Regions from separate parts of the Homo sapiens genome. Here region 1 is linked to region 2. Evidence: fine-mapped expression QTL. Tissue or cell type: fibroblasts. Region 2 holds a variant in brackets; the other region holds the start of a gene. All regions are shown on one strand. Distances are between the middles of the regions.

Region 1 (2,698 bases), 38 kb after region 2:
TTGCTGACACAGCCTCTGCCTCACCCACGCCCTCCCTGCTACCCGCGCACGACCCTGCCCCACCCCCTCCGTGCCCGCCCCCCGGCCTCAGGCGGCCGCTTACCTCCTGGTTGTATGACCGCAGAGCTTCCATAATCACATCCTCCTCACCCGTCTCCACGGCTTCTGCAACCGCCCGGGGCTCCATGGCGCGCCGGGGAAGGCGGGACGGGCCCTTCCTCAGCCGTTCCGGGCCGCAGTTCGCCGGCCCCGCCCTGGCCCAGAAAGCCCCGCGCCAGCGCGCGGGGGAGGCCGGGACGGGGCGCGGCGTCTGGTGGCGCTTTAACGGGGCGCAGCGTCTGGTGGCGCTTTAAGGGGGCGCGGCCTGAGGCAGAACTGGCGGCTCGGAGGTTTTAAGACCCGAGTCGAGGGGCTGAGTCGCTCTGAACCGAACTGACCCCTCTCCTTGTGACCCGCGCTTCTTGGGCCAGAAGTTCCAACAGGAAACGATCTCAGCCCCCACCGTGCCCTGCCACACACACAGTGACGCCCCTCGAGCTCCACAGAACCGATGGGATGTAGAGGGGAAAGCCGAAGTGGAAAGGAATTTTCAGTCCTGGGCCATTGGGTTCGTTAGGCGTTTGCTGGGGAATGCAGGCGAACGGGATTCCCAGGTCCCTGCCTTTGTGGAGCTTATGTTCCAGAGGGGAAGGGGGACAAGGAAAAACAAAAGGACACGAGGCGGTCACAGGGCTGTGCTTCAAAAGAAGCAAAAGGCGACTGCTGGGCTGCAACGGGCTGTGAGGAAGTGCTGTTTTTGCTGACACCGGACGGTGGGAAGTGAGCCGGGAAAAGACTGGAGGAGCCACTCCAGGCAGAAGGAGCAGCACTTGCAAAGGTGGAGGGGCCGAGAGAAAGGGGAGCAACCCAGTCTGGCCTGGACTCAGTTCCCTCTTGAAAAGCAAAGATCCTGCGTGTCCGTTTCAGTGGCCGTCATGAGGATTCAGTGACGCACAGGAAGCGCGATCCACTCGCTCTTCTAACAAGTGCCCGGGAGCAAAGGCGTCTACGGCCCCCAGTCCCCGCGCCGCCTCCCAGTCTCTCTCCCGGCTTCACTTTCCTGTAGTGCGTTCTGTACGGCTGTATTCGACGCGGCGCGCACTCGCAGGCACGAGCGAGGCGCCGATCTCCACTTGACAGAGGAGGCACCCCTGCCCCCACCACACCCAGTGCTCCTCGCGGGCTTCTGCCCGAGGGGTCTGCTCCTTCCTCATGACCCGCCTGTGAATCCTTCCTAACCGTTAGGACCTAACCCACAGAAGCGTCTTTCCACCACCATCGTCTAGGCACTGAGCAAGCAAACGGCCCCGCCCCGCCCCACGTTCACAGGAACACCAAACGTCACATCCGCGGTGCTGCTGTAATCCCAGCACCTTGGGAGCCCGGCAGGCGGGGGCTGCAGTGAGCTGAGATCGCGCCACTGTCTGCGCGACAGTGCTGAAAATAAGCCACAGATATGCCCATCGCTTCCGCGCCCGGCAGTTCCCCACCCTCGGCCCTAAGCCGGAAGTCAGCGAGCCCGAAGCGGAAGGGGCTGGGCTATCTAGGGGCGTGGTCGGTGCGGAGGCGGGGCCATCGCTAGCTGGGGGCGGGGCCGGAAGCTCTTTCCCCGCGACTGCGCCACGTCTGAGGCGGCTGTGGCCGCGTCGGTGTCCGCGTCGAGGAGCCGGGGCAGGGCACGATGGCGGACTGGGCTCGGGGTGAGCGCGGGAGAGCGGAGCCGTTGGGGGCAGGGCCGGGCCGAAACCGACGCCGCTGCCTGTAGAGCCGCGTGCGCCTGCCTCTGGCCCAGCTGGGGTGACCTCGGCCGAGAGGACCCTGTCAGGGGGGCGGATTCGGATCCTTCCGGGTCCGAGCAGGGCCGGGTTTCGGCCGGCACTGCCGTTAGGACCGAAGGCGCGCGTGGCGGCCCAGCAGCTCCAGCGAGGGGTCGCGCAGCAGCGGGGTCTCCCCACTCCCCGCCGCCCCCTGTGAGATCGTTCTGCATGGGTTCGGGGTGAGCGGGAGTCGGCATTCGACAGGTCCCGAGGCCAGGCCCTAGGAGTAGAGGCTGTGCTCCGCTGGTGTCCAAGCAGGACTCTTACTTTGGCCTCGGTGGCCCCATTTCCCCTCCTGGAGCCCGTGTTCTTGTCTGCAAAGTGGGATATTGATGCCTGTCTCTGTGAGGTGTTATGATGATTAAAGGAATTTATAAATATGAAGTGGCTGGAAGGACGCTGGCATCCCTTCCTGACACTGAAGCTAGGGAGGAGGTGGTTCTCACGCACCTGATGTGACAGAACTTCCTTATCCCCTGGCCCAGCCTGTCACAGGCCAGGCCTCTGCGAGCACTCTGCCCTGGGTGTTGCAGGAAGCCCCATGCGGGATGCAGACCAAGGATCCCGCTCCTGGTCGACCTCAGCTCCCGTCTCGGGGAAATTGGGAACTTTGCTCAGCCATTTTCTGTGCGGTAAAGGGCCTTCCCAATGTTCTGTCCTGGTTCCTTGCCACCTCTTCAGGACCTAGCTCAAAGGTCGTCTCTGCAGGAGCCTTTCTGCTGCCTTGCTGGGTACTTTTCCCAAGTCTTTTCTATGCTCTTAGCAGAGTTTACTCTTTTTCTATAAGAATGGGCTCCACATACACAGATGGTGACCTCCCTGGATGCAAGTGTCACATCATA
Region 2 (2,622 bases):
AAAGTTTATTTTATTTTTTTAGAGACAGGGTCTCACTCTGTTGCCTAGGGTGGTCTTGAACTCCTGGCCTCAAGTGATCCTCCCACCTCAGCCTCTGTAGTAGCTGGGATTACAGGTTCAAGCCACTGTGCTTGGCTAAGATTTTTAAAGTAATATATTGTGAGATGAAAAGCATCAACTACCAAGGCAAAGACTGATGAATGTGACCGCGTTAAAATGGAAAACTTAATCCAAAACACAGAAAAAAGTACAAAGACAAGCTACAGACTGGGAAACAATATTTACAACATTTATAACCCACCAGCAATTATGACCAAGGAAATATAAAAACACTTACAAATGAGTCAGGAGACAAGCAACACAGTAGAAAAATGGGCAAAAGACATTAACAGGCAATTGACAAATTTGGGGACACAAACAGAATGGCCAATAAACCACTAGTAATTGTGAAATGCAAATTAAACCCCCAACAAGATATAATTTCACTTCTATTAGATCAGCAAGAGTTAGAGCCTGAAACTATCAGGTGTTGAAGACATGGAGCTTCCAGAGTACTCATATGGTGCTGAGGGAGCATGTATCTGGGAAAGGCAGAGATGCACACAGCTTGTACCTGTAGTCTCTAGGCATACATCTTGGTGAGATTCTGCCCACACACAAGGGACCAGGCACAGAAATACTTATGGCAGTACTGTTTGTGATAGTAAAAAAAACAACCTAAATCTCCCTTTTTTTTTGAGACAGAGTCTCGCTCTGTTGCCCAAGCTGTAGTGCAGTGGTGCGATCTCGGCTCACTGCAACCTCCGCCTTGCAGGCTGAAGCAATTCGCTGCCTCAGCCTCCCGAGTGGCTGGGACTACAGGCGCCCGCCACCATGCCCGGCTAATTTTTGTGGTTTTAGTAGAGACGGGGTTTTACCATCTTGGCTGGGTTGGTCTTGAACTCCTGACCTTGTGATCCACCTGCCTCAGCCTCCCAAAGTGCTGGGATTACAGGTGTGACCATCGCACCTGGCCCTAAATCTCTTCAATAGGAGACTGGATACATATGTTGTGAAACACTTATACAATGAAATACCGTATAGGAGTAACAGCACATTGGTTACACATACCCACATGACTCTGAAACCTAGTATTGAGCCAATGTTAAAACGCTTGAGTTACACACCCCTATTTAATGAAGGACAAGGAAATGCATGGGCATGAGAGGGAGCCTGGCTGGGGGAGAAGTGTGGTCTGAAGGGTACTGGGACCCTGACTGTGCCGTGTGGCTTCATTCCTTCCTAAGCTGGTTGGGGCACATGGATGCCTATTACAGCATTCTGTACTGTGACTTATAGCTTTCAATATGTCTTAAAATATTTGAAAATAAAATGCACTAAGTATGCATATGGGTTAGGACTGACAATAAACAATAAAAAGTATCTTTTCAGGGCAATGAGGACATGAACACTTTAACCCTTACCCCCAATATTTTCTTTAACATTGTGATTAGCAAACACACACACACACAAACACACACACACAAACACAC[ACAAACACACG/G]AACACACATGCAAACACACACACACACACACACACACACACACACACACACACGTTCTGGTTCAACCAGGTGGACCAGCCACATGTCGGTTTCACTGCCACCCACATCCATACCTGTCTCCCAACTGCACCAAAACATAATTGAACATAAGAAAGACATAAAAATAGACAGGATACTTCAACAACATTTAGGAGGCAGAAGGAAGATGGAGAAATAGCACGTGACATGCCAGTGGTGTGTAGGCTGACCTTGGTCAGGGAGAACCAATGTGCTTTGGGCTGACTGAGGCCATGTGGAGTCATTATTAGACGGATGTGCTGTGGTCACACAGGGGAGTGCTCTTTTGTTTAAGGGCAACAGGCATTGTATCAGCAACTTACTCCTAAGTGGTTTTGGAAAAAAGCTACAGACACACACAAAGGCAAAAGCGGTAAAAGGTTAGCAATCGGGGGGGCTGGGCGCAGCGGCTCACGGCTGTAATCCCAGCACTTTGGGAGGCTGAGGCAGAGGGATCACTTGAGGTCAGGAGTTCCAGACCAGCCTGGCCAACATGGCGAAACCCTGTCTCTACTAAAAATACAAAAAAATTAGCCGGGCAGGGAGGCACGCGCCTGTAATTCCAGCTACTCAGGAGGTTGAGGCAGGAGAATTGCTTGAACCCGTGAGGCGGAGGTTGCGGTGGGCCGAGATTGCACCATTGCACTCCAGCCTGGGAAACAGAGCGAGACTCCGTCTTTAAAAAAAAAAAAAAAAAAAGGTTTGCAATGGGAAATTTAGGTTGGGGTATAGTAGTTCTTTGTGTTATTTTTGCAACTTTTCTGTAATGTAAAAATGTTTTAAAATAAACAGTAAAGAAGAAAAATAGGTTATTTTTTTTCCTAGGGTTTTAAATAATTTTAAACCAAAGATAAATCTGTATTATGGTGATCTCACCTTTGTAACCTGTAGGTCCCCGATGTTTAATTTTAGAGCTCCAATTGCTGTTTTACACAGGATCACTGCCTCATCACTACTTTTCACCTAAGACATCAAAAACAAAAACAAGAAACCTCAGAATGTGGGCAGTTGACTAACAAAGG

What was found. PIP is the estimated chance that this variant, and not a neighbour inherited with it, causes the effect.
Region 1: BET1L starts here. The variant in region 2 is fine-mapped to the expression of BET1L in fibroblasts (GENCORD, PIP 0.95).

What each region holds. Positions count from the first base shown.
Region 1 is chr11:206,344-209,041 of GRCh38, reverse strand. It overlaps BET1L (Bet1 golgi vesicular membrane trafficking protein like), which reads left to right and starts at 1,643. Exons shown (of 4, transcript NM_001098787.2): 1 at 1,643-1,739. The coding sequence starts at 1,721. It overlaps RIC8A (RIC8 guanine nucleotide exchange factor A), which reads right to left and starts at 1,334. Exons shown (of 10, transcript NM_001286134.2): 1 at 104-1,334. The coding sequence starts at 187. RefSeq lists enhancers at 1-53, 128-747, 723-892, 748-1,369, 1,916-2,417 and silencers at 1-61, 132-421, 422-620, 1,682-1,801, 1,912-1,971.
Region 2 is chr11:244,616-247,237 of GRCh38, reverse strand. PSMD13 (proteasome 26S subunit, non-ATPase 13) reads right to left here. Exons shown (of 13, transcript NM_002817.4): 6 at 2,477-2,563. Among named protein-coding and RNA genes, the nearest start is that of PSMD13, 9.0 kb to the right of the region's middle. The variant ACAAACACACG/G (reference allele first, on the strand shown) is at 1,533.